Linked DNA regions of Homo sapiens. The protein of the gene in region 4 purifies or fractionates together with the protein of the main gene of each other region. This does not show direct contact. Each region holds a gene or a part of one and is shown on either strand. Other genes may lie near its edges. The genes, in order: MYH4, MYH3, MYH7 and TMEM260.

What was found.
Region 1: the proteins of TMEM260 (region 4) and MYH4 purify together in Homo sapiens (affinity purification with mass spectrometry; 3 studies listed by BioGRID and IntAct, with this or other methods). This does not show direct contact.
Region 2: the proteins of TMEM260 (region 4) and MYH3 purify together in Homo sapiens (affinity purification with mass spectrometry; 3 studies listed by BioGRID and IntAct, with this or other methods). This does not show direct contact.
Region 3: the proteins of TMEM260 (region 4) and MYH7 purify together in Homo sapiens (affinity purification with mass spectrometry; 3 studies listed by BioGRID and IntAct, with this or other methods). This does not show direct contact.

Annotation. Positions count from the first base shown.
Region 1 is NC_000017.11:10,452,387-10,459,617, reverse strand, and holds part of MYH4 (myosin-4), read left to right. Parts: intron 1-196; coding exon 197-367; intron 368-1,888; coding exon 1,889-2,198; intron 2,199-3,062; coding exon 3,063-3,133; intron 3,134-3,716; coding exon 3,717-3,804; intron 3,805-3,886; coding exon 3,887-4,004; intron 4,005-4,322; coding exon 4,323-4,446; intron 4,447-4,540; coding exon 4,541-4,677; intron 4,678-4,807; coding exon 4,808-5,063; intron 5,064-5,732; coding exon 5,733-5,975; intron 5,976-6,289; coding exon 6,290-6,466; intron 6,467-6,685; coding exon 6,686-6,831; intron 6,832-7,111; coding exon 7,112-7,202; intron 7,203-7,231. UniProt on the Homo sapiens protein: Muscle contraction.
Region 2 is NC_000017.11:10,647,144-10,654,374, forward strand, and holds part of MYH3 (myosin-3), read right to left. Parts: intron 5,421-7,231; coding exon 5,277-5,420; intron 4,526-5,276; coding exon 4,369-4,525; intron 3,259-4,368; coding exon 3,231-3,258; intron 2,543-3,230; coding exon 2,434-2,542; intron 1,507-2,433; coding exon 1,414-1,506; intron 284-1,413; coding exon 220-283; intron 138-219; coding exon 39-137; intron 1-38. UniProt on the Homo sapiens protein: Muscle contraction.
Region 3 is NC_000014.9:23,432,661-23,439,887, forward strand, and holds the start of MYH7 (myosin-7), read right to left. Parts: upstream 3,001-7,227; 5' UTR 2,960-3,000; intron 1,590-2,959; 5' UTR 1,534-1,589; intron 1,081-1,533; 5' UTR 1,073-1,080; coding exon 872-1,072; intron 568-871; coding exon 424-567; intron 136-423; coding exon 1-135. UniProt on the Homo sapiens protein: Myosins are actin-based motor molecules with ATPase activity essential for muscle contraction. Forms regular bipolar thick filaments that, together with actin thin filaments, constitute the fundamental contractile unit of skeletal and cardiac muscle.
Region 4 is NC_000014.9:56,575,602-56,582,824, reverse strand, and holds the start of TMEM260 (protein O-mannosyl-transferase TMEM260 precursor), read right to left. Parts: upstream 3,028-7,223; 5' UTR 2,911-3,027; coding exon 2,751-2,910; intron 1-2,750. UniProt on the Homo sapiens protein: O-mannosyl-transferase that transfers mannosyl residues to the hydroxyl group of serine or threonine residues of proteins. Specifically glycosylates the IPT/TIG domain of target proteins, such as MET and MST1R/RON.

The DNA.
Region 1 (7,231 bases), on a different chromosome or scaffold from region 4:
TCTCATGCAGTTACTTGGAAAATAAGTATTCAAAGAATCAATTCTACTTTGTTTAGAACTATATAATAGGAAAACAATCTGAAGGTTTATAATTTAATAAACCAAAATGCCTTAAATTCAGAAGAAAATACTAATAGATACTCTGTAGATAGAATACTTGTTATGCGTAATTTCCTATATTTATCTTGTTCTGTAGTTCAACAGCCTGGAGCAGCTGTGCATCAACTTCACCAACGAGAAACTGCAACAGTTTTTCAACCACCACATGTTCGTGCTGGAGCAGGAAGAGTACAAGAAGGAAGGCATCGAGTGGGAGTTCATTGACTTCGGGATGGACCTGGCTGCCTGCATCGAGCTCATCGAGAAGGTTCATATGACTTTTCTAGCTTTCAAAACATGAAAACCAAATTGCTTGCCTCCCTGTGCTTAATCACACTCCCTGTTCTCAAAGAACAAGCAGTGCTGTTTCCTGACACACTCGTATATTCTGATTGGTTGTGAGGTATGTTCCAAGTGATCTGTTATTAATAAGTAGAGCAGTTTGTAGAAAAATGTTTATCACTCACACACATATGGATTCGCATTTATCCCTCTAAAAACTTAATTCTCCCTCACTTTTCTTCCTACACTATTTCATGCATATGGGAGAAAGGGATGAAATTACAGCTATTCCTCTGGGTTGTGTAATTAACCCTGGTGTACCCATGACAGTGTATTGTGCATTTATCATCATCCCTCATGTGTAACAAGGCAGGCTATGTCAACACGTCTTAAAGATTGGAAGGTTAGTCCTTCAACTGTTGCAGTCATTAAGTCTTTCCCCGTTCATGATAACTACTGAATAAACACCAAACCTCTGTATCACTTACCTAGAAAATGGGCCCTGAATTCCCCATTACTAAGGGGGTGAAGCAATAGTTACATCAGATCTAGATATGTTAACACTCATCAAGCAATCGTTAAACACTTCCAAAAGTATCTTGGGAGCTTGTCATATACTTATTGATATCAATAAAGTGTATGTGTGAACCCTACCCTAAGCAGTGGGAAAGGAAGCGTAAATGCAATTGCCACCTAGGAAAACTTAAAATACTCAGGTTAAAATTCACAAAAATATGAAAGATAAGAGTTTAAAAGCAGACTAGGTCTGCACAATTTGGGGAAAAGATACGTTAATCTGGTGATATAATATCTCTACTATTCATGAAAACTTTATGGTCTTCAGAAAAGGCATTTATTTTATTCTCTAGTATTTCAGTTTCTGTATCACCAAAATAGTCTTAGGGGTACAATTTGTGAATTTGTTAAATCATCAATGTTGAATTTTCTTTCAGTCTTTCCTATCAAATACATTAAGAAAAAAGCCAAACTCTTAGAAAGCAAAACCAAATTACTATCACTTAACTCCACAGTGGTAGAGAATATAGGTTAAAGTACAGAATTTTAATGATACAATATAAGATGCAATTTCCTCCTAGGAATGGATCATTTTTAGTCCTTACACATAATCTCTCTTCCCTTCATACTTCTGTCACCTCTAGATTCGAGGTAAAGGAAGTTATATTGTCAGTAGGAAAGAAAGTAGTCAGATATATACATTTATGGAATAAAGAATTCAATTTTGAAGTGATGTTTTCAGAATCTGATTTTATACACTGAACATAAAGTGTGCCAAATAGTTCAGATGTATTTTTTTTAACTGAGTCTTTCTAGCAAGTATATTTCCCATATGTTCTGGGTACATAATGACTGCTTCACATGTCATGCCTATTTAATTTATCATTCAAAGTCTTCTTTTGAAACATTGTATTTTCAGTTTTCCATCAATTACATGGAGCATAACTTTCTGAGGGACTCATCATTATCATCCCTTTTTTCCTATTCTTAGCCTATGGGCATCTTCTCCATCCTAGAAGAGGAGTGCATGTTCCCCAAGGCAACAGACACCTCCTTCAAGAACAAGCTGTATGAACAACATCTTGGAAAATCCAACAACTTCCAGAAGCCCAAGCCTGCCAAAGGCAAGCCTGAGGCTCACTTCTCACTGGTGCACTATGCCGGCACCGTGGACTACAACATCGCCGGCTGGCTGGACAAAAACAAGGACCCCCTGAATGAGACTGTGGTGGGGCTGTACCAGAAGTCTGCAATGAAGACTCTGGCTTTCCTCTTCTCTGGGGCACAAACTGCTGAAGCAGGTCATGTTTAATAGCACTAATATGTTACAAGAGTCACAAAATAGATATACACTGTTCAACAGAGACAAATGTAGTTACAGCAAAACCTGACACAAAAACACTGGCCAATACATGCCTAATGAAAGAAAGTGTATTTAATAACTGTGATACAGTCTTACAGTCACAGACTTTCAGAGCTAAGTGACACTATGGAGCATTTAGCCCACAGCCTGATTTCACTCATGAGAAAACAAGAATCTCAGAGAGGTTAAGTGATTTGCTCAGGATCATAAAACTCATTTCTATCATTTTAATAGTATTGGTTCTTTCAAGGTTCTCCAGCTAGGCTGGAGATAAGGAAATCCTTTGTCAGGGCCCTAGTGCTTGGGGAACTGAAGTTCTGTTCTCTTAAGTGTTCTAAGACCAGATGTGCAAGTAACACCATGGAAGCACAGGCAAATGGGAGCCAGGATTTCCCTGCAGGTGAGCAGAGGCTCACCTACCTGGGACCAAGTGTGCAACTCTGCCTGTTGTCCAAGTGAGGCCTGCACTAACAAGGCATTACTACTCTGTCTCCTTGGCCCTTCCTTCAGAGAACAGACATTGCTGACTTGGAGTAGGGGAGTCCCATCCCCTACCCACATCTACCCCTTACACTCACAATTCTTTTGTTGTTGGTTTTTTCATGAATGACTATAAAGTCAGCCAAATCTTAGACTTTCTTAATCTACAATTGAGGGAGGAGAGATATGGAAAGAATAGGAATGATGCAAGTGAATGAGTGCAAATTTAAATTCTAAAGGGAATTTTGGCAGTCCTGATGTTTATGGATAGTACTTAAAAGGCAGTTGCAAATAACTTTATTTTTCCCATTTTGTTTTTTAGAGGGTGGTGGTGGAAAGAAAGGTGGCAAAAAGAAGGGTTCTTCTTTCCAGACAGTGTCAGCTCTTTTCAGGGTACAGTATATTCTTGAATTACAGATAAATACTTTCATTAAAAAACTAAACCATCAAAACAGAAAATTTTTTAAAAGATATTTATGGTGAAAGTGAATAAAGTAGTACAGTATACTTTTTAGTATACTACTAAAGGTTTTGTAAACTTTTTAAATGGCTTAGGAAAAAAAATTAGCACAAAAAAACAAACTACATATCTCTTCACATCAATCTTTATGATACGTGAACCATTGCCCCTGAGCCCTACATCCAAGAGATCTGGTATTGTACAAATTTCACATGAAATCAAATGCTCTTTTAAAAATAACCACTGTATTCAATTACATCTCCTTCATGTGACAAAAATCGCAATACAAAGTTTCTCTGACTGGTGGTGCTTGAGAATAACAAACTGAAATTAACTGATTTTGTGTAATCTGTAATTTCCTACCTGTGCTCCACTTATATGATTCCTCTCTGTTATGATAATTTGTTTTTCCTTGAGACAGCTCATTAAAATGTGAAATGAAAGACAAATATTGATAGGGACTCTCATGTCGATGCAACTAGAAATGATTTTAAAACTTTTCATATGGTTCCACAGGAGAATTTGAATAAGCTGATGACCAACTTGAGGAGCACTCACCCCCACTTTGTGCGGTGCATCATCCCCAATGAAACTAAAACTCCTGGTAAGACATTTCTGATATCCAGACAAGCTCCAGTGTGTGTGCGATAGACCACGAAGTATGGCATGTGGATTCATTCTCTTAGGTGCCATGGAGCATGAGCTTGTCCTGCATCAGCTGAGGTGTAACGGTGTGCTGGAAGGCATCCGCATCTGCAGGAAAGGCTTCCCAAGCAGAATCCTTTATGCAGACTTCAAACAGAGGTTTGTGTCTCATTATTTTTCCCTTCCAATGTCTTAGTCTACACAAAATCACTATATAATTCCAACATTTTTAAACTTTTCCTTGAAAAATGACATGCAATTATTTGAAAATTGATCATAAAAGAAAGAAGCTTAGGTTTATATTATCATAAGTTTTTCATCATATCTTCCGAAGTTTTAAATAAAGCACTGACTTTTTAAATGGCATTTTGTTCACCAAAACTTAATCTATCATCTTTTCAATGATAGCTACCAAATGTTCTACTGTTTTTTTCAGTGAAGAAAAACCACATTTTTATATTCTTTTTATTCTGACAGATACAAGGTTCTAAATGCGAGTGCTATCCCAGAGGGTCAGTTCATTGACAGCAAGAAGGCTTCTGAGAAACTTCTAGGGTCTATTGAAATTGACCACACCCAGTACAAATTCGGTCATACCAAGGTATCACCAGTCCAAATTTCTATCTGTCATAATTCTATCACTTTTAGACTTTCCTGTAAGTGGAAATAACATATTTAACTTGTTCTTTCATAAGGTTTTCTTCAAAGCTGGCCTGCTGGGAACTCTAGAGGAAATGCGAGATGAAAAGCTAGCTCAACTCATCACGCGCACTCAAGCCATATGCAGAGGGTTCCTGATGAGAGTGGAGTTCAGAAAGATGATGGAGAGGAGGTGAGAGCCCACACACAAGTCTTCCTGCTCCACACTTTCATAAATGAATCCACTGCAGTCATTACTTTTGTTGAGTGATGATCACTTTCCACATTATTCTCCATTTGCATCTTTTTTTCTTTTCCTACAGAGAGTCCATCTTCTGCATTCAGTACAACATCCGTGCTTTCATGAATGTGAAGCACTGGCCCTGGATGAAGCTGTATTTCAAGATCAAGCCCCTCCTCAAGAGTGCAGAGACAGAGAAGGAGATGGCCAACATGAAGGAAGAATTTGAGAAAACCAAAGAAGAGCTGGCTAAGACAGAGGCAAAAAGGAAAGAACTAGAAGAAAAGATGGTGACGCTAATGCAAGAGAAAAATGACTTACAACTCCAAGTTCAAGCTGTAAGTATTATACATTGCAGTTCAGCCACATCTTATTACTTTTAACGTTTTAAAATGAATGGTTTCCACTGAAACATTTGTTCTGATTGTTTGCTGTTCAAAAACACCAAGACTCGGGCATAAAGAAGCAATAGATGCAAAGTCACATATCATGCTGCACACGTTCATATGTGCATTCACACACAGTTTGGTCATCAGTGAGCAAATTCATAAAAATATCAATAGACATTTTCCTTTATTTATGGAACTTTCTCTCAGATCAGATTATTCTTTCTTTAGTGTATTTTTGTGCATAAAATAGAAGTTATGTTGTTTTTATCAGGGCAGAGAAATGGCTAAGTTAATCCCCTCTTAAATGTGAGAAAACTGAGTCCTACAATGAACAAGCGATTTTTCCAAAGTTGCAAAGGTTAGTAAAGTGGCAGATTTTTGCCAAAGGGCTAGTTTTCCTGATTTGGCCTGCCACACATGAATATCTGAAGGAAATTTGTTATTATACTTGATCAGTAGATAACAGTATTAACATTTTGTCTGTTTCATTTTAAAAGTTAGCAACTGGTATACATGTTGACCAAACAGGTAGTCACTGAAATTTCCACCTTATAATAAATTATTGTGTGCTTATAGATATAGCTCAGACAAATGAAAATGCTTAATTTCTCCCTTTAGGAAGCAGATGCCTTGGCTGATGCAGAGGAAAGATGTGATCAGTTGATTAAAACCAAAATCCAACTTGAGGCCAAAATCAAAGAGGTAACTGAAAGAGCTGAGGATGAGGAAGAGATCAATGCTGAGCTGACAGCCAAGAAGAGGAAACTGGAGGATGAATGTTCAGAGCTCAAGAAAGACATTGATGACCTTGAGCTGACACTGGCCAAGGTTGAGAAGGAGAAACATGCCACAGAGAACAAGGTACAAATCATGATCCATTTTAGAATATTTATAAGCACCTTGATACTGAAGTATTTTAATTAAAAATTTAATCTTAAGATGATTGAATATAAAAAATACCACTGTCATAACTATTTCATCTCTTTAGTCTTCACCACCTCAATGTACTTACTTGACCTTTACCTCCTATTTTTTCAGCCATTATAGGCCTGGGTTAGCTCCTGGTTCTCATTTTCCATCTTACGCTGACATTATCCTAAGATACTACAGCATCATGTTTTTCATCAAGATAATACGTTGTCATTGACATTCTGGTCATCTGTTCTAATCTAAAGGTGAAAAACCTCACAGAAGAGATGGCAGGTCTGGATGAAACCATTGCTAAGCTGACCAAGGAGAAGAAGGCTCTCCAGGAGGCCCACCAGCAGACCCTGGATGACCTGCAGATGGAGGAGGACAAAGTCAACACCCTGACCAAAGCTAAAACCAAGCTAGAACAGCAAGTGGACGATGTAAGTGTGAAAAAGAAAATGTTTCCCCTTGCAATGAAATAAACAATTGTGACATGAAACCAGCACTGATAGTCATAAGCCTTTAACGCTTGGTCTGTGAATAAAGTTCTTGTGCTATTTGTTGTATCTTTAAATTTTTTTCTTATGTATCTTTGAAGGCTACTAGCATAGGGTTCAGTGCTTAAGAGCTGAAATAAATAAAATGCATCATAAATTTAGCTTGAAGGATCTCTGGAACAAGAAAAGAAACTTTGCATGGACTTAGAAAGAGCCAAGAGAAAACTGGAGGGTGACCTAAAATTGGCCCAAGAATCCACAATGGATACAGAAAATGACAAACAGCAACTTAATGAGAAACTCAAAAAGTAAGTATGGTATAATTCAGCTATAACCTGCTTGTTGTATGTCAATGCAAATGAAACATACGCTAAAAAGATCTCCAAAATGTTACATCATGACATATGGAAAAAAATAATGACATCTTTGACCTTTTTATTTAATTAAACTAATACAATTATTAATCTGTAAAACATTGTACTACTCACTCCTTCAACACCAGCAGTATAAAAAAAGTCTTAGATTATACATAGAAAAGAAGATTGGTAAGAGAAGTGATTATAAGCTAATGTGTTGCTCTTCTAATAGGAAAGAGTTTGAAATGAGCAATCTGCAAGGCAAGATTGAAGATGAACAAGCCCTTGCAATACAGCTACAAAAGAAGATCAAAGAATTACAGGTAAGTTATAACCTCCACCTTTTCTGGGC
Region 2 (7,231 bases), on a different chromosome or scaffold from region 4:
ACTACCTAAAAGACCAGCCCCACTGGTGACTTCCTCACCTATGAGCTCAGGCTTCTTGTTAGAAAGAATCTGGTAGAAGATGTGGTAGCTTCTTTCAGCCTTCAGCTGGAAAGTGACTCTTGATTTTTCCAGAAGATCTGGAACACAAACACAGGACTCTCTTTCAAACTGTTCCCAGTTAACTCTGAGACGCCATCGAATCCCCATGGATCTACTTACAAGTTTCAATATCTGCAGAGGCCAGCTTCCCAGTGGTTCCAAAATGGATTCGGATGAACTTGCCCTGTATGGGGCGGGATTCAGGGGGAGACCAGATTCTACCATGGCCCAATAGTTCCTATTCATCTTATGGGTAATTTGAGTAGGAGCCTAGTCCCCCTAAAATTTTTGTTTTGTTTTGTTTTGTTTTGTTATGTTTTTGAGACGGAGTCTCGCTCTGTCACCAGGCTGGAGTGCAGTGGCGTGATCTCGGCTCACTGCAACCTCTGCCTCCCGGGTTCAAGTGATTCTCCTGCCTCAGCCTCCTGAGTAGCTGGGACTACAATCACGTGCCACCACACCTGGCTAATTTCTGTATTTTTAATAGAGACGGGGTTTCACCATGTTGGCCAGGATGGTCTCGATCTCTTGACCTCGTGATCCGCCCGCCTCGGCCTCCCAAAGTGCTGGGATTACAGGCGTGAGCCACCGTGCCCAGCACCCCCTACAGTTTGAAATTAGATATGTCCTTCCTCTTCTCCCTTCTTCTTCTTCCAGTTTGGGGTTTTCCTTATTTCCTTTTATTTATCCCTTTTATTCTATGCTCATCCCCCACTTCAACGTATCTAGTCAACAAAGCAACTACAGTGATTGTTTCAAGGTGTAAATCAAACCATATCACTCCCTGGCTTATAGAATCCCTCAGTAGCTTCCTGTTACACTTCAAAAGGAATCCAAACTCCTTCTCATGGCCTGTGGCTCCCACATGACCAGGTCTCTCTCTCTTCCACCTCATCTCATGGAACTGGCCCCCCTGCCCTCCTCCCTACAACCACACAGACCCTCTGTAGGTGCCCTGACTGCACCAGGCCCTCCCCCATGTCAGGGACTGCCCTGGCCCTTCCTTCGTTCCCCCTCCTTCCTGTCATTTCAAGTTGGGCTCTTTCTCATACTGCGGCTCTCAGCTCCCGTGCCAGCCCCACAGAGAGGTCTTCCCTGCCCACCCTGCCTAAAGCAAGCCTGGCCCCCAGTTCCTCTCTTACACACGCTGTTCATTGAACTTGGTCTGAATTTATCTTTATCTGAAATGGTCTTGTTGGGTTGTTTTGTTTTTCATCATCTGTTGCCTCTGGTCTCTACACTCTTTGAGGACAGGGCTCTTGCCTATTTTGTGAGGCACAAAGCAAATTCCATCTTAACCAAACTCAGACTCACAAAACGGGAGGAGTTGTCATTCCTCACAGTCTTGGCGTTCCCAAAGGCCTCCAGCAGGGGATTGGCACTGATGATTTGATCTTCCAGAGTCCCCTAATGCAAGAAATTGAGGGAAGAAGAGGAAACATTTTTTTTTGAGATGGAGTTACACTCTTGTTGCCCAGGCTGCAGTGCAATGGCACGATCTTGGCTTACTGCAACCTCCACCTCCCGGGTTCATGTGATTCTCCTGCCTCAGCCTCCCGAGTACCTGGGACTACAGGCATGCACTACCATGCCCGGCTAATTTTGTATTTTTAGTAGAGATGGGGTTTCTCCATATTGGTCAGGTTGGTCTCGAACTCCTAACCTCAGGTGATCCACCCGCCTCGGCCTCCCAAAGTGCTGGGATTACAGGCGTGAGCCACCGAGCCCAGCCTGAGGAAACATGTTTTTAAGCCACAGAATGACAGTAAAAAATGCTCACCCACTCTGTGACTCTGGCTTGCCCTGATAAAGCCCCACCCTCCTTGACTTTCCAATCCTAGGACCAACCAAATCAGCAGCATGTCTTACTCAAAACACTTTTGCCATTTTGTTATATTTGGCACTACAGTTGGGGATCTCTTGACTGAGCATTCCTTTAACACTTCAATCCCTTGATTCTCCAGTCAGTTGTCCGTATTCATTTCATGCTGCTGTAATACATTTGTTTCAAAAGCCCAGGATATGCTGTGAGTCACTCACATTGGTATATGTGATTCTTCCACAAAAGAACAAGCTCTCTGAGCCGTCTGCAGATTGACCTCTGAAGTTTAGCCCTAGAGCCTTGTCTTCTAAGAAATCCCGGGATCTAGTCCTACAAGACCAACTTGACACTGCGTTGTCTAAGGTGACTGGCTGTCCTTCAAGATAGTAAATCCTAGCCTGTTCTCCATTCTCTGAAGAGGGGGGAATGTGAGGACATTTGGCCCCCTCATTCTGAGGTTAAGACCACAGTTAAAAGTGGAAGCAAAGCAAGCCTTCCTCTCCCATCTATACCTTCATTTTGGAGTCCTTCTTCTTGGCCAGGTCCCCAGTAGCTGCAATTGTTGCAAAGTACTGGATGACCCGTTTGGTGTTCACAGTCTTTCCTGCCCCGGATTCTCCGCTGTACAGAGTGATCAAAAGAGAGAGAAAGAAACAAGTCTGTTAGTATAAACAGGCTTTTCAGGATGTCATACTGAGGCCTGGGCATGGTCTGAGCCATCTCTGACACACACTCACCACACTAATGTGACAGACCACTTGAGAAGGCAGACGCCCAGGGCACAGGTGCCACAGGCACTTGCTCAGCTGACCCAAGGATGGGTAATTCCATTTTTCTGAGGCCTTATGCAGACCTTCCTCCCCATCCCCAAATCGATCTTTTTATTTTTTATTTATTTATTTTTCTCTTTTATTTTTTATTTTTTGAGACAGAATCTCACTCTGCTGCCCAGGCTGGAGTGCAGTGGCGCGATCTCGGCTCACTGCAAGCTCCGGCTCCTGGGTTCACGCCATTCTCCTGCCTCAGCCTCCTGAGTAGCTGTGACTACAGGTGCCCGCCACCACACCCAGCTAATTTTTTTGTATTTTTTTTAGTAGAGGCAGGGTTTCACCGTGTTAGCCAGGATGGTCTCGATCTCCTGGACCTCGTGATCCGCCCATCTCAGCCTACCAAAGTGCTGGGATTACAGGTGTCAGCCACCGCGCCCAGCCTGATCTTTTTATTATAGACTCTGCTCCAAACACTTTCTAATGAACAGAATAGAGCCAGTGGCACAGCTATGAAACCACTCTATGCCATGGATACTTACGTGATCAGAATGGACTGGTTTTCACGATCTGCCAGAGGAAAAAATAAAATAGAGTTGATGGCAATAGAAAAAGAGCTTCCCGATTCTACCCAACTCTCAAGTAGCCAGAGTTAAATTGCACAATTCCTCTTCCTTTACATTTTTTGTTTAGCCTTTAGGTGGGAATCTGAAGAGCCTCCATCTGCTTTTTATTTTATTTTATTTTTAATTGACAAACAATATTTGTATATATTTGTAGGGTACAACATGATGATTTGATATATGTTTATATGGCAGAATGATTAAATCAAGCTAATTAACAAATCCGTCACCTCACATACTTATTTTTTTGTGGAGAAAACATTTAAAATATACTATTTTAGGGATTTTGAAATATACAATGCATTATTACTTATCGGAGTCACCATTCTATGGGACAGATCACCAGCACCGATTTCTCCTTTCCAGCTGTATCCTTTGGTCAATATCGAAAGCCTCCTTCTTGAGACTGAGACTCAGAGAGGGCAAGTCTCCACTCAGAATCAGCCAGTGGCAGCCGGGTGCAGTGGCTCATGCCTGTAATCCCAGCACTTTGGGAGGCTGTGGCAGGCAGATCACGAGGTCAGGAGTTTGAGACCAGCCTGGCCAACAAAGTGACCCCTGTCTCTATTAAAAATATAAAAATAGCCGGACATGGTGGTGCATACCTGTAGTCGCAGCTACTCGGGAGGCTGAGGCAGGAGAATCGCTTGAACCCGGGAGGCAGAGGTTGTGGTGAGCCGAGATCACACCACTGCACTCCAGCCTGGGCAACATAGCAAGACTCCATCTCAAAAAAAAAAAAAAAAAACCAGCCAGTGGCTTCTCATCGTTCTTGCTGTATTAGGCTGAACTATATAAAATGATCAGTTTTTGGTTTTGATCCATGAAAACATCCATATCCGTTTTGCATATTCTAACTTGCATTAAATCCAAAACTCGTCACCTTGGCATGCGGGGCCCTACATGATGCAGCCCCTTTCTGCCTCTTTTGGCTCCTTCTTCCTCCTTTCCCTGTGCTAAACACCAGATGGGGTCCAGCCTGGGAGTAAGGGGCAACTGCCGCTCGCCTCATGCAGTGCCTGCTCCAGCATCCCATGCTTCCTCCTGGGAAACTCACCAGTCAGCATGAACTGATAGGCGTTGTCAGAGATGGAGAAGATGTGGGGTGGGGCCTCCTGGCGCTTTTTGCCTCGGTAGCCTTCCACCACCTCGGGGTTGTACACCGGCAGCCACTTGTAGGGGTTGACAGTGACACAGAAGAGGCCTGAGTAGGTCTGTGGGAGGAAAAACATATACGTGCGTATATGTATGTATGTGCATATGGAAAACCCCTTGCCTTTATTATTATTATTGTTTTTTTTTTTTTTTGAGACGGAGTCTCACTCTGTCACCAGGCTGGAGTGCAGTGGCACGATCTTGGCTCACTGCAACCTCCACCTCCCGGGTTCAAGCAATTCTCCTGCCTCAGCCTCCCGAGTAGCTGGGACTACAGGTACATGCCATCACGCCCGGCTAATTTTTGTATTTTAGTAGAGATGGGGCTTCACCATGTTGGCCAGAATGGTCTCGATCTCTTGACCTCATGATCCACCCGCCTTACCCTCCCAAAGTGCTGGGATTACGGGCGTGAGCCACCACACCCAGCTGCCTTTATTATTATCTCATGTTTCTTTGGGATAAACTTATAAAGGGGGGAGGCTACCATTCCTATTTATAGTGAGGCACTGAGACTCAAAAAGGGGAGTGGCGACCCTCCCACAGTTGGTAAGTCACAGCACCCCGTGACCAAGCCTGGCCCCAGCTTCCCCGCTCTCCGGCTCCTGGTCCTCCTTCCCACCTTCCTTCTTCCTGCCCCATCCACCTCTTGCTTTCTTGCCTTCTTTCTCCTCCGTCTTTGTGTTTTGTTCATCAGCTAGGCAAGCACTCATCTTCCAGAATCCCACGGCCCACACACATACCTCTGCCTCCCTCCCCTGCCCGCATATCTAATGCCCCAGGGAAACCACGTCGAAAGCCCTCGCTGACATAGATCATCCAAGATGTGTAACGGTCCTTCAGGTTGTACAGCACGGCTGGCTCATTCAGGTGCGTCAGCATGGCCATGTCTTCGATCCTGTCGAACTTGGGGGGGTTCATGGCGTACACATCCTCTGGTTTGACCACCAGGGTCTAAAAAGGAAGAGGCACAGTGCTTCACTAAGATGGTCTGCACGTCTTTTTTTTTTTTTTTTTTTTTTTTTTTTTTGAGACGGAGTCTTGCTTTGTCGCCCAGGCTGGAGTGCAGTGATGCGATCTCGGCTCACTGCAAGCTCCACCTCCCGGGTTCACACCATTCTTCTGCCTCAGCCTCCCAAGTAGCTGGGATTACAGGCGCCCGCCACCACACCCGGCTAATTTTTTTTATTTTTAGTAGAGACGGGGTTTCACCGTGTTAGCCAGGATGGTCTCGATCTCCTGACCTCGTGATCCACCCGCCTCAGCCTCCCAAAGTGCTGGGATTACAGGTGTGAGGCACCGTGCCTGGCCTGTCTGCACGTCTTGTCTGCTGCCCCCACCAAAAGACCAAGAGACTCTTGAGCCGAGATGGAAGGGCCAAACCCTAGAACAAGCCCAGCTCACAGCGAGAGGAGGAAAGGCTATGGGGCGGCTTGTGGTGGTGCTGATGAAATGGGGTTTGTTTCTGTTATTCAGGGTGTCTTCTTCCTCCCCATTGGGCCTGAGGTGAGAGACGGATGTCGGAAATGAGAAAAGAGGATCTGTGTGGGTGGATATGGGTGATGGTGGCTGGGAACGGGGCCAGCAGGAACCTTTCAGCTCAGTCAGTAACACTGCCTGGACCAAAATCCAGCTCCAGCAGCTGGCTCTTTCCTGTCTACTGAGAGAAAATGACGCATATGTCCCCTGCAGTCGTGAGGCAGGGACCGAAGAGAATGAGGAAGGGGCATTGGATTGCCAGGCTGGTGCCCATGGATTGCCAACATTCTGAGCTCTCTGAAAGCAGCTGTCCAGCCCCCGGCCCACCTCTTCCCCCTTCACCACCCAGCCCCAGCATGCTCAGGAAAGGGCCCCTCAGTTGCCCTCCCCACCCCTTTCCTGCCCTTTCTGGGGTCAGAGTGTTATAAGCCAGGCAAACGGCACCATGAGGCAGAGCAGTGGTTCTGAGCACCTGCACTTCTCTCAGCAGGACAAACCCCCACACCCTCGGGAAGCTGGAGGACCTCAGGCACAGGGGGTGGGGAACTTGTCTTCCTCTTCCCTGCCCTGTCCTCACCTCCTTTTTCTCTGTGACCTCCTCTGAAATGGTCAGTTTTCCTGGTTCTGTCTCTGGGCAGTGTGGATGGGAAACCTGCCTTTTCCCTGCCTTCAAGCAGGGATTCATTCAAACCATCCCGGCCAATGGGCCCTGGCTGTCTATGATGGTCTCTTAGGTTCATCTTAGATTATCATTCACTGTATCTAGCTTCCTCCTTCCCTGACGTGTTAGCAGCCCATTCTTAGCTCCTTATTGGAAATACACAGAGAGCCACCTTTTCGGAGCTCCAATGCTTGGTAGCACTGCAGGGCGGTTCTTATTTTTTGGGGGGACCGAGTCTTGCTCTGTCTCCCAGGCTGGAGTGCAGTGGCGTGATCTAGGCTCACTGCAAGCTCCACCTCCCGGGTTCACGTGCAGGGCGGTTTTTAATGCCTTTTTTCCTTCATGCCCAACCCAATGATAGTATTTCCTTTACTTGTCTCTTTTATTTTCTTTCTTTCTTTCTCTTTCTTTCTTTCCTTCCTTCCTTGCTTTCTTTCTTCCTTCTTTCTTTCCTTCCTTCCTTCCCTCCATCTCTCTTTCACTCTTTCTTTCTTTTTTCCTTTTTTTGCTTTTTACTTTTCTTGGGACTTTTCCAGATTCTCCTGATGTGGATTTTAGAAACTAGTGAGCTCCAGAATTCCTCGCAGCACCCCCACAGTGGCTTGGGCCAGAATGTAATGGGCTG
Region 3 (7,227 bases), about 33 Mb from region 4:
GTTGTCGGAGATGGAGAAGATGTGGGGCGGGGCCTCGCTCCTCTTCTTGCCCCGGTAGGCAGCCACCACCTCAGGAGTGTACACCGGCAGCCACTTGTAAGGGTTGACGGTGACACAGAAGAGGCCCGAGTAGGTCTGGGGATAGAAAAGGAGCAGTGACTTGCCAGTTGCGAAGGGGGAGGGCTGGTGATTTTGGGAGTTAGAGAAAGATCCCAGGAGAGAAAGAAGAGAAAGGAAAACCTCTGCATGCACTCAATCTGAGTAATGCCAGTCCCCAGAGTGTTGGAATTGAACCAAGGATGTTGGGACGAGGTTAGAGTGTAACCCTGCCTAGACACAAACAGAAGACACTCTTGGCTCCTGGGGTGGACATGGATGGAGCAAGAACAGAGATCCCAACGTAGGGCCAGGTGCAGCACTCACGTAGATCATCCAGGAGCCGTAGCGATCCTTGAGGTTGTAGAGCACCGCGGGCTCATGCAGGAAGGTCAGCATGGCCATGTCCTCGATTTTGTCGAACTTGGGTGGGTTCTGCTGCATCACCTGGTCCTCCTTCACGGTCACTGTCTGCAAGAGCCCCCACCCAAGCCCTCCTGTCAGCCTGGGCTTTCCCTCCTTCCTCAAGAGGGTTAGGAGTTGGTGAGTGACAGGGCAATAGTGCTCAAGAGAGAAGGAACCAGGATCTCACAGGGAAGACAGAAGGGATATTGGGAAGGAGAGGGCTCTTTGGAGGGTCTGGATTCTTCCCCAAAGGGAAGGAGAATGGGACCATCCTCAGGTCTGCATGGGCATGGGGCATGGGTGTACCCCTCTCTGTCCACCCAGGTGTACAGGTGGCCAGGGTGGACTCTCACATCAGCCTGACACCCACCTTGCCATACTCGGTCTCGGCAGTGACTTTGCCACCCTCTCGAGACACGATCTTGGCCTTGACAAACTCCTGTTTGTCATCAGGCACGAAGACATCCTTCTTGAGGTCAAAAGGCCTGGTCTGCGCTTCTAGCCGCTCCTTCTCTGACTTGCGCAGGTAGGGGGCGGCAGCCCCAAAGACTGCCATCTCCGAATCTCCCATGGCTGTGCCTGGAGTGAGCAGAAGCTGGCTGCCCTCCCATCTGCCCATTCTTCCCTTCCCTCCCTGGGCTCTCCCCTTCAGTGGGAGCCCCAAAACCTAGCACCATGCTCAAGAGTCAAGAGGAGTTACCAGTGAGTCCCTTCCTCTTTGAGGTTACCCCTTAACCAGAGGAGCAGCCTAGCAAACCTGCCAGGGTAAAAGGAACAACTAACTATTGTTCAAGCTGGGGCTCTCCTAGGGGAAGGAAGAGCATTCTGAGCTCCCTGTAGGAGCAGAAATCTAACTATTTCCATCTCTGACCCTCATCTATCCCTGGACCCCCTGGTCACAGGTAAGTAGCTCTTGATAGCCAAGATATTCTCTCCAGCACATGGCAGAAACTAGAGTTCCATAGGCTGGCTTTGGGGCTCTAATGCCCAGTCTTACTAGATTTTCAACACTCTAGCTTCAGCTTTTCTTACCTGGGCTACTCAAGTGTGTCTACAGATGAGGAAAGGGGCCAAGGCCTGCAGGGGACCTGGAGAGAGGGAAGAGGCTGTGTCAGGGCAGGCTGTGCCCAACCTGACCAGTCCCACCTTCCTGCTTCTCCCTGGCTCTGTTCTTCAGCATCCACCCTCTTCCAAAACAAGGTGGAAAGGGTGGTCAGCTTCTCTGGTCCCATCCTTCTTGTTTTTCAAACCCTATTCCCTTTTTCCTCAAGAACTAGTTCTAACAGCTTCCTGGTGTCAACTCAACCTGAACCCTAATCCTCTTCACTCCTGCGAGATGGTCCCACCCCTGCCTGTACCCATCTAGTGGTACCTTTCTTTGAGCCATCTGAGAGACAACTAATGGTCACATTTGTTCGGCACTTTCCAGTCTAAAAGCACTTCAATGCACTTTCTCCTACTCAGTCTTCACCCCATTTGACAGATGAGGAAATCGAGGTTAAATGGCTTGCTTGGCCAAGAGCCCATGACAACAAGTGGGAGAGCCAAGACTTGAATGCAAGTCTGATGACTCTAAAGAGACTTCTTTTCCATCCTGTCCCCATTTTGTTGTCAGACTTTGTGGACATTCTCAGAGAGAAGACACTGTGGGCTTCCTCTCACAGACACACCCATCACATAGCCAAACACCCTCCACAAGCCCTCTGATGAACACTCATGCCTGCTGCTTGGGCATGCCTCTCACATGAAGACAGGCTTCCTTCCCATACCTCAATCCGCACCCCAACCCCAGGGTGCCATATATGCCTCAACAGCAAATGTGCACATTTCAGGATGTGTGCCACGTAAGTAGATCACATCACTGCGTGTTCTTCAGTACACAAAGACCTGGAACATCCTACACCCCCGTGCCTGTGAGTTCCTTCTGCAGAGGGTACAGATACTATAACAGTCATGACTCGTGGAGGCATAGACAAGAACCTCTGCATGCATGGACAGGGGTAGCTACACATTCCAGGCCTCACAGAATCACATGAAGGCATACACACTTCCTAGAATCCTTCTCCACCATTCTTTCTCCCTCCCTGCAAAGGAACCTCCTCGTTCACAGACGTGATCATACACCCACATCTCCCACTTGATATTTCTGTATCAGTCAGTGAGGTACATACCCTTTCTCACATTCAGACTATGCAGGCTTGTCCACACACACACACACACACACACACACACACACACCCTGTAATGCATATTGGTCCCATATGCTCAGATGCAGATATCTTCCCCTAGGAACTCCTGTGGCACATACGCCCATGTTTAGACCTGCACATGTGTGCCCAGTGACTGGACCTGGTACTCTGCATGAAGTCCTGCATGAAGCTTGCTATTCCAAGAGGAATCCCTTCCTAAGCCTGGAGCCCCCTTATCCCAGAGTAAAGCCTCCAGCTCCCGCTCCTACCTGAGAGCAGCAGGGAAAGACACAGAGCAGGACAGAGCTGTGGAGCCAGACCTGGTCTCAGGGGCTGTATATATGGGGCAGCAGGGCACCCCCACCCCCAACGGCACCCAGTCCCTAGCCGGATTTAGAAAGGGCTGTTGTCACTAGAAGCATTTCCCCCAGGCTCCCCCCCTTCCCAAACAGTGCTCCCCTCCCCGCCTCTCCAGCTAGGAAACAATTGGAAGTGGTCGTCATTGTTATGGCATGGACTGTGCAGGGTCTGAGTTCCAGGGGGCGGGGTGGCTCAAAGTGCAGCAAAAATATCTCCCAGGCCAGGCCTCACATTCCACAGCTGGCAGGAGAGGGAACTGACCACGACCACCAAGACCACAGGCAGCCAATGTCCTGGCTCTCCCGCAGGGCACTTCTGGCCCTGGACACTGCTCCCCCTCCAGTCCCCTGCTGCGAGGCCCCTGATGGCCTGGCCGCATTTCCACAGTGTCCTCCCTGCTCTCCTGGCCCAGGTCCTGTATCCAACTGGAAGCTGGGAAGGGGCTGAGTGTCAGCAGCAGAGAAGGGTAGGACAGAGTTGGGGGCATGGCCCCAGGGTGAGGCAGCTAGACTGGGGCAGCTGGAAGGACATTTCCTAGCCAGGTGGCAAGAACAATAACCATGGAGCTTAGAGATGGGGACTCTGGCTCAGGCACTGATTTCCTTGGACCAGCAGGCAATGTGTTGAGGTCACCAAGCCTCCGAGCCAGACAGGCCTTTAGCAATCCATCCAAGCACTTCATTTAATGGAGAGGGACAGTGCATTCTTTAAGGTTATACAGCTAATCGGGGCAGCAGGATTCAAGGTGGGAAACCTCAGCAGATGGGAGTGGAGCCCGGCCTGTGGAGGGTAGCCTGGAAAGGTGGGCTGGGATTCCAAAGATGTGGGGACCCCCTATGCGCAGAGAGCAGGACCCAGCTGCATTGGTCCTAGTTTGGAGCGGTTTGCCTGACTCACGTTCCTGGCTCTGCCCCACAGGTACTAAAGGCCTGAGCCCAGAGACAGACCCTCTCAGAGCTATAGATAATACAACTACTTGGAGCTGGAAGGAGACCCCTAAGACAGCTGTTGTCTGGCCCACCCAGCCTCAGCTTTATCCAGAGCTGGAGGCGACTAGTGTTCTGGCAAGTGAGGCAGAGTAACAGGACAGGAAAAATCTTCCCCTCTGCAGGCCTGAGGAACAGCCACAAAGGAGGGGAGGAAAGGGAGCTGGGGCCCAGCCTACGAGCACAGAACACAACCGATGCCATGCTCTTCTAGCAACGGGGCATGCAAGCTTGACTGGCTCCGTGTCTAGGCAACCACTGCACGATTTGGTGTGAAATCTCCCCCTTCTTCCCAAGCACAGCTCTTCCGCGCATGCGGATTAGTCCATCTGATTAGCTGTCAGCTTGGAAGGAGTGAGGCAGGCCTGGGGGATGGGTGCAGCAGGTACATTTTGAAGGTGGGGTGGGCATAGCAGGGAAGGGAAAATCCAGGAGGAGGCCTCTGTGGGGGTTGCTTGGTAACCAAGGCACTAAGGTACAGTCTGAGGACATTGAGCAGCTATAAGGGGGGTGCAGGCAAGTGGGGGTAGACCACGAACTGCAAGGGCTGTGTCTGACAACACCGCAGCTCTGCAGTGCTAAGGTATACAGTTGCTGAGGTTATCCCAGTAGTCTGTGCTACTAACATGCCCGGCAGAACAGACTCTGGCAGTCCCCCCCAGGCCCTGCCAGGTGCTGAGGAATCAGCCCCATTGACAGAGACAGACCCTCTCAAAGCTATAGATAATACAGCTGCTTGGAGCTGGAAGGAAACCCCTAAGACAGCTGTTGTCTGAGGTTCCCTGTAGGAACCTCAAGGATTGGCGATGAGGGGCAAAAACTCCTTTCGTCCCCACCTTCCAGCTTTCCAAGCTCCAAACTGCCACCCCTCCCTGATTTCCCAGGGCAATTAAGATGCACAAAGGGTGCTTGGGACGTAGTTGAGCCATTTCAAAGCCAGTGTCTTCACCACAGGCCAGCGTCCTTCCTTGGCTGGGGACTTGGGTAGTCTTTTCTGCATTTGGGAAATCAATCACACTTTGTTTCTCTCCTTTCGGGTTTGGGAGGCTCTGGTCTGTTGGTGTTTGGGTGTTACTGTTCTCCACCCATGCCCCCTCTCATTGCAGATAGAACTCACCTCCCTAACTAGGCTTTGCCTCACAGCTCAGACAGATCAGAGGGCCTGCTGTCCTTAAAGATCCCCACTCACTCCCTAGCTCCTCCAGCACCTGCTCTTGGTTACATCATGATTCTCTTCCTGCTGCTTGCTGCTGTCTGAAGACTGAGCAGCTTTGCAGATTCCTCCATTCAACAAGTATTTATTGAGTGCCTACTATGTGCCAGGCATTATTCTGGTCAATAAGGACATAACAATGACCCAAAGAAAGATCCCTGCTCTGGACTGCTTTAGTCAACTGTTTGTAGAAATGGCATCCAGGCCTACCCTTTGCACACATGCACATTCCTTGTGGGGAGAGTGAGGGGCCAGGGGCCCCACCATGCTGGGGTGGGTGGGGATTGTGCAGAGTGTGCTACAAAGTGATAGCAAGATAAAGGAGAGCAAAGCAAAATGCTATAAATAAAGAGAGGCTGGAAGGAGGGCCGCTTCGGCAAGGTAGACCAAATAAGGCCTGAAGTGAAAGGAAGGTGATCTGTCCCCCGTCCTCCCCTCCCCGCATTGTGCCGGCTTTGTCTGCACTCTGTCACCACCCTGATCAAGTGTCAAGCCAAAACAGGGGCCATTTGCTGTGAACACGCCAGCGGTAGTTCAGAGGAAAAGTTGCTAAAATTACTCCCAGTAATTGTGAGGGAGGGAGACACCAGGGCGAATTAGAAGCGATGTCAGCATGGAGAGAGGGGAATCAGAAAAAAGCTCCGGTACCCAAAGGGAAGGAAGAAACGGGGCAGGAAGAGGCAGGGCACTTGGTGCAGGGGAGGAATGAGGCACTCGTTGTTTGTGCACAGGGCAGAGGGGAGCCACCCAGGAGTGGAGGCTGACTCTCCCATCCGCCTGCCCCCAGAATCCCTGACCTTGGGGGGACCCTGCCCTGGCTCCACACGAGCCTAGGATTAGGGAGCTGAGCTTTCTGCCTGTCTCAGATTTCCCTTTACAAACAGCTGCTCCTTCTTGTCATTCTTTTGTCTTCCTGCTGGCTTCAAAATCTTTTGTACTTGTGCACCCCCTCTCATTCCCTACTCTAGGTCTCTGCTTTCTGATGGATGTGAACAAAGAGAGAGATGGAGGGCCGGAGACAGGCTTGGGGCTGGCCTAGTTCACTTTGGGGTAGTTAGGGCAGGTTGATCTTGCCTTCAGGGAGTGTTTGGAGGGACACAACTCACCAAAAGGGAGACTTTGTGGGGAGTGACCGGTCTGGAGGGCCAGAGGCCTCAGAAGCATACAGGATGAGCAGTCTGGTCAGCTTTGGAGTCAGTCACAAAAATCCACTTTGAAACCCAGTGATTCCATTTTCTAGCTGTGTGGTCTACGTCAGTCATATAATTGCTTTGAGCCAGTTTTGTCATCTGTAACATGGGGATAGCCACATTTTGTTTCCAGGGCTACTCAGGCCATTAGAGATTGCACAAGCAGAGTCTACACACAGCAGACACACTGTGGGCCCTCACTGAATGGCAGCTCTTAGGTTAGGAACACAAAATTGAGGAAGCCAGGCTGCAGACAGGAGGGCCGGTTGCCCTGCCATAGGTTCTTTGTCCCCACACCTCCTTCAGCCCCACTAAGTCCACTTGGTTCAAAGGATGGTCTGGACCAGAGTAGATCAGAAATCCTGCAGTCTTGTGGTCGGCTCTACCCAGACTGTGACTGCCCTTGGGAACGTCATGCCAGGAGGCCAAGGTTCTCAGACTGTCCTAGACTCAGTCTAGGCCCACAGTCCAGCCCTGAGCTGGGATAGGCATCACTGCTTGACTGCTGCCCACTGAGCTTCCCTCATGACAAGCCAGTGTGTCCTGAGGTCCAGCAGGAGTTGACCCAGGCCAAGTGGTGACATTGGTCAGGCCACCAGATAGGAGCAGGCTGGGCGTTGGTGGCTCACACCTGTAATCACAGCAGTTTGAGAGGCTGAGGCAGGCAGATAACTTGAGGTCAGGAGTTTGAGACTAGCCTGACCAACATAGTGAAACCCCGTCTCTACAAAAAATACAAAAATTAGCCGGGCATGGTGGTGCACTCCTGTAGTCCCAGCTACTCAGGA
Region 4 (7,223 bases):
AGGGAAATACTACTCTTAAATTGATTGTGATAAAGAGGAAGGGAATAGTAAAAAAACCTCGAGCTTCCCGAGTCTTGGCTTTCTCCCAACCCTTTACATGAAAGGTTCCTCAGTTGTGTCTACCTGCATCAGAATTAACCTGCTTTTTAAAAATGAAGATTCCTTGCCCACACCTCCAAATTCCATAATCTACTAAGACCCACTTGCACTGGGGGCTCAAGTTTCCCAGGTAATTCTGAAGTACGTTCCTGTCTGAGAACCACGGCTTTGTTGTCTGCAATACAAACTAATGGCAAGCCCAGAGTTGTCAGCAGATGCTTAACCTTTACAAAAACCAGCTCCCTTTATATCATACTTCTCAATATTAATTAGACTAGACTGTCACACATCACATCTGTTAAAGACAGTATCTTTGAAATAAACTCACGTACAAACTAATTTAGTGAAGGCCAGATTCCTACCCCCTCCCCGAAAAGCACCACAAGCACCCTGCCCATAAATGAACTGTGTGTGTCAAGTGGTACAAAAAATAATTTTGGCAAGACGACACAATGTGATGAATCTATGGAGTAAAATGTAAGACTTATCAGGAAGAAGAATACATGCTTTATACTGGTTTTGAGATGTGTTCTGTTTATTGATGAAAATATAATTCATAAACATTCAAGAATAGTGCATTCAACATGTAAACACAATTATCAAATATACGATAAAGCAAATTTTCCATATTGGCATATACTTGGAAAACAGTTTATCATTCCCAAAAATGAACATAAAAATATTAGAAGCAACCACTATTTAACATCAAACCAAACAAAATTAAAGCACCTAAAGTTTGGTAACTCAAGGTGAATACACAACTTTATTCTTTTAGGAAAAAATAAAATACAGTATTAATAAAGGCAAGGCAATAATCATGATTTTAAATAAATTTTAAACATCACTACATATGTGATGGTGGATTTAGAAAAGAATTTCATGAAATGTTTTGACGAAAAGTAGAGGTTAAGGGGGCATATTCTGAAGTCAATATACTTTTCTTTTCCTGATTTCTCTACTTTGTGTGACTTTGGGCATAGCTTAGCCTTAGTTTTCCCATTTATAAAAGGAAAATAATAATTGCACCTACTTTTAAGGGTAGCTGGGAGGGTTAAAACAACAACCCATATAAAGCACTTGGAACAGTGCCTGGCACATAGTAAGTGCCCAACAAACGTCAGTTATTATAAATCTCACTCCCATCCTTCACACTCAACCAACCATAAGTAGCTGTCAATCTTTTTATTTTTTTACAAGTAACAGAACTACCTAACCTCTGAATAATGCTCTCCAGCACCAAAACTCACAACTATAAAGTTACTTCCATTATGAAATACCAATCTTGGTAACACTGTACAGAAACTCCCTACTACACGAATGAAACACTATCCCTACTTGTGCAACAGGACCTGAAAGAAGAAAGGTAACAATTTGAAGATGTAACATCAAAGATCTTCAACGTGGTAGGCAGCCCTAAATATGATCCCCACTAATCCCCAAGTCCTGATATTCTCACCTGTGTAATCCTTCCCCCTTGAATATGGGTTGGGTTTACTGACGAAGTTCCAGGAATAAAATGCAGAAGTGGTATATCACTTACAGTATTAGGTTACAAAATGACAGAGCTGTCAGACAGAGAGGTGTCCTTCATCTTTTTCTTGACAGAAGTCAGTTAACTTATGGAGACCCACATAGCAAAGAACTAGATTGCGTTTCTCCCCAAATTGAGCCTTGAGAAGACCGCAGCCCCATCGCACACCATGACAGCAACCTTTTTCTGAGTACGAGCATCTAGCTTAAACGGCACCCAGACTCCTGATTTACAAAAACGGGAGACGATAAACGTTTGCTGTTTAAGCTGCTCAATTTGGGGATCACTAGTCATGCAGCAAAAACTGCTTCTTCAGTCCATAGGTTCACCACCTGAAATTACAGCACTATTCTGACAAAATTACTGGCCATGATATGGCATTATTGAATCCAAAAACAAAACATGGATCTTGTTTCTTGCATCAAATACAAAACAATTAGTGTGATTTAAGGGCCAATGAGTCATGCTTTTCTTTTTCATAGAAACAGCCGCACCTGGCTTCCACCTTTTTAAGAGTTCTCCTGCAAATATTCTGCATGGCTAGTTCCTTCTCAATATTCAGGTTTCAACTAAAACACCACCTCTTCAGAGGTCTTTCCTGAATAGTCATTCGGAAGGACCCACTACTTACCCCCACTCTCAATCATATTTCCCTCCTACTGTCTCCATAACTTATCACCAGTGAATATGCTGTTTATTCATTAACTTGTGTATTGTCTAACCGCACTGGAACACTAGCAATTATCTGTTCGCCACTACTGTTCTTTTGTTTGAAACATAATAAGGACACCGTGAATAATATCTGTGGACTAAAAAAGACTGAAAGTAAATACTCAGGACCAGGATAAAAGATCTGGGGAAGTGGAGAGGTCGATAAGCCCCACCAGGCGAAACCAACAATACGCCCCATCTCGAAAACCTGAGAACTAAAGAAACCACAACGACAGGAATGGAAACAGAAGTGGGCTCTGGAACACACAATAGTGCGCTGTGCACAGGGGGGTGGATGGAGGCCCAGAGCTGACCAGACCGAATGCCAAGAGCAGGGGCCAGACGCAGACCCTGCCCGTTCTGGGACCAGGGGAGAGGGACAGAAGGGGCAACCCTGCGAGTACTTTACCGGAGTCTCCCCCCGGTACCGAAGGGGGCAGGGTGAAGGTGAACACTGCGGCCACGGCGGCGAACACCGCCACGCCGCCGCGGATGCCCCCGGAGCGCCGCAGCCCCACTCGGACTGCCCGCCCCTGGGCCTGGCCCCTGCCGTCGCCATGGGGACTCATGGGCCAGTGGCGACCGAGGGAGAAGGACACGGCCAGCCCAAGAACCCGGTGCGACACGGAGCTCCCCAGCCGAGAGACGAGCGCAGCTTGTGCGGCGGCCACGGCGGCTTCCGGGTCGAGCCTCCGCGGGTTGGACCGCACCTTTCTCCGCCTGAGCGCGGGGAGGAGAAAATGCCAGGCCTCCCTTGAGCCAGGCCCTGCGAGTTTTCCCGCAGTGCACCACGCATTGGCGTTCACCTACTTATAATGTGATTTAAGGTTCCTAATCACCAGGAGAGCATTCCCTTTAAAAAGCAAGCCCGGCCACAGGCCTACCTTCTCCATGGCTATTCCCCCCTTTTATACTGACTTGGTTGGGTCTGACAGAGACCAAAGCAGCGTCGAAAACCGCGAGCGAGGAAGGGCTGCTCCTGCCCCCTACGGTGCGGGGTGGAACTGCACAAAAGGGCCACGATCAGCCAGGAGCCCCTACCTGTGCTAAAAAAAAAAAAAGGGTGGTGTATTTACCGTATGTGCAAAGTAAGCCAATAAATACATTAATCACAATTATGTATTTATTACGATTTACTACGTTACTATGACTAATTACAATAAGTCTGTGTGCTACTTATTAAATCACTGAGTAATTTTTAGAGAGATTAGAATATGCTAGTGCGTCTTTTTTTTTTTTTTTCATTCCATAGCATAATGAAAACTCTGTAGATGAGTCGGGAAATTTGAGTTCCTGTATTCATGCAGATAACTCAAACCATGATAAAGGTGTCTCCTAGTTTAATGAAGAGGAGTGTTTTGCTGGAGCTTTCAACACAGCAAAGTGGAAAATGAAATTGAATCACCATATTTTACAATGAGCTGTAACGCAAAAAAAAAGAATCGGAGCCGTTAATAAGGACAACTACATAACAGCGCAGTTAAGCTTTTTAAGCTTATGTTTTATTATTAAAGCAATTATCCTGGAGTGGGCGGGGAGGAGAGCAACCCGCATAAAATGTATCTCAAAGACACACTGAAAACCAGTGACAATCTCAAACGTGTTACGCGCAATTTGATAGAGACACAGTGACTAAACTATAGAGTAACATATACCTACCTTGACGGTCATGGGGCCAGCACACCTTAGTCTTTTCCAGGTACTTATACAATTTCCAGCCTTTTCCAGGTAATTTCTCAGCTGTACTGTGAGTTCCTGGAGGAGAGGGGCTGTGTGGTAGAGTGCTTCTAAAATGGATTCCCAGATAACCCTGCCTCCTCACTCACTTCCTGTATAAGCTGCTCGCCTTATGTGTGAGCTTAACCTAAGGATTGGCTTCTATCAATACAATAAGGCAAAAGTGATGGATGTCACTTTCAAGATTAGGTTATGAAAGACTAACTTTCATCTTGCTGGCACTCCCTCTTGTCCTCTCACTTGTTCTCTCTGATGAAGCCACCTACCATGGTGTAGGCTGCCCTGTGGAAAGGTCCACATGGGAAGAAACTGAGAGCCGCCTCTAGCCAACAGCTGGCAAGAAACTGAGACCTTCAGTCCAACAACCTTAGAGGAACTGAATCTAGGCAACACCATGTGAGGGAGCTAGGAAGTGGATCCTTCCCCCACATAAGCCTTGAGATAACTATAACTCCTGTCAAGACTTGGATTGCAGCCTGTGGATGACCCTGAAGCAGAGGACCTAACTAAGCCTCATCCAGACTGCTGTCCTATAGAAACCGCGAGATAATAAATGTTGTTTTAAGTTGATAAATGCAGGCTAATTTGTTAGTTATCAGCAATAGATAGTTAAGATAGGCTGTCTTCTATTTCTTTGCTGAAAGAACATGCCAATGAGTAACCTTGACTGGGTCAAGCATATACTTCTTTCCCTTTTTATGCATTTCACTTTTGCTCATGAGTTTTATTTAAAATTTTTTTATTTTGGAGGGGAATAATTCTTTGTCCATGTTTGGGAGGTAGAGATCAGTGCTGGAAGTACAAATTTAGGAGTTGCTCGTGTAAGGATGATATAAATGACTAACTTGATAAGGGGATAGTGTAGAGAGAACAAGGTTGAGGTCTAATGTCAGCCCATATTCTCATTTAGGGAATGGCTGGAGAAGGGGAGAGAACAGTGTAAGAGAATGAGGCATCACCAGAAGCTAAAGAAGAAAAGTCGATGAAGTACATGTGGTCAGGATGTTACAGAGAGGTAAAGGACAATGAAGAGAGGCACGTCTAGATTTTGTGAAGCTCAAGTGTATAAAACTTGGAGAATTATATGTAAGTAAACTGATATAAAACTGCAGATACAGAATTAGGCACAAGATATTGGAAGACACCTGGGCTAGAGAGGAACTGTGAGGCCTAAGCTTCATTAGCTTCATGGTTGTTTTCCTTTGAAGATTAAGAACTTCCAGTTCTCTGTTTATGTCTGACTCTACCTCTCAGTAAGCATCTGACTATTCCTTCCTCCCCGGAAGTATTTTCTTTTCTGGCCTTCATTGATAGCACACTCTTTGGTTTTCCTTTTATCAATGGCCTCCCTGCCCTGGCTCTGCTTCTGTCGGTCCCCCAAATGCTGAAGTATTCCTGGGCTGTTCTAGACTTTTCTCTCTTTCTGTCTTCTTTCCCGAGATGATCATATTGAAGCTTTAAAGGGCAACTATGGGGCAATATTTCTCAAAATTAGACCTCCTCTGCTTCTCTTTTTTAGCGACCGATTATTTTAAAAAACCCAACTGCCCCCGACCTCTCCATTTCTATGTCTAAATAGCCTGTCAAACCTGATGGACTTTGTCTAATTTCCACCATATTTAAAATGATGCCTGGCACAAAATTGGTGCTAAACAAATATTTATGTAATAAATGAATACATGAACAATCAGAGATCACTGGCATATCCGTTAGGGATTGCATTTAGCTACTAGTGACAGATCCTGCTACAGTGTCTTAAACATTAAAACAATCATTCTCTTATATAAAAGAAGTCAGAAGTCTATAGGAAGTCAGTCTACCACTGGCTTGGCAACTCCCTGATTCCACTAGGGACACAGCTGAAGTCCTCATATCTTTCTGCACCATCCCACTCAGCTCACATTCTCAAGGTCATCTACTGATCCAAGGTGGCTGCTAATGCTCCAGACATTACATCTGTTCTTGAGGAAGAAAAAGAAAGGATGGGAAGAGAAAGGCCTGCTCCAGCTTTTTTAAAAAAGCACTATTTTTTTAAATGCTATTCCACAATTTTGCTATATCTAATTGGCCAAAATTGAATAACAGGTCACTCCTAGGGGCAAAGGATGCTGCGAAATAGACTTTTCAGCTGGACAGTTTGCCTAGAATTCTATTACAAAGGAAGAAGGGGAGAATGGATACTGAGGGGCAACTAGCAGGCTCTGCATGGTTGGATTTGGTGACCTGGAGGTATTTGAACCTTGAAAGTTCAAGAGGTCAGCTTCAGTAGAGTAGTATCTACAGAAACAAGGTACTAGTGGGCTAAGAAGTGAGCAAATGGAAGACATGAAAATAAAATACATTTGCAAAAAGTTTGGCAGTGAAGGGAAAGAGAGAAATAGCATGAAAATTCACAGGGATCGAAGTGTCAAATGAAGATTTTTGAATGTCTTGTTTTGTTTGTAACTCAAGGGAGTATTTGGAGAGACATAGTGATGAAGTAAAGATGTACAGGTTATTGGAGAGGATGGGACTGAGGAGGACAGAAGAGAAGGGTTGAAGATAGAAAATGTTAGAGATAAAGAGAGAGACCTCATGATGTCTCTCTTTACACATGATGTGTAAACATGTGATCGTTGGACTTGATCCTGAGACAGACCAATAAGACATATAACGAGTATTGATTTATTGTTTGTGCTCTACATCATTCTATGATGGCTTAGAGTTAGCCACTATAATACAAACCATAAAGCAGAAAAATATGTAAATAATTTGGGATTCATCCAGAGAAACAGAACTAGTAGGAGATATGTATGATACAATTTATTGCAAGGAATTGTATAATGTAATTTTGAGGGCTGGCTAAGTAACTCTGAAGCCCGTAGCACATGCCATCAGGAAGGGAAGACTGGAACTCCTGGGCATGGCAGAAAGCTGTTGTCCACAGCTGGAAGTTTTTCTTCATCAGGGGACCCATATCCCTGCTCTTAAGGCCTTTCCACTGATTGAATCAGGCCTACCAGATTAACTATGATAATCTCACGGTTTTGAAGACAAATGAGGCTGGGCATGGTGGCTCATGGCTGTAAACTCAGCACTTTGGGAGGCTAAGGTGGGAGAATCACTTGAGGCCAGGAGTTCGAGACCAGCCTGGCCAACATGGCAA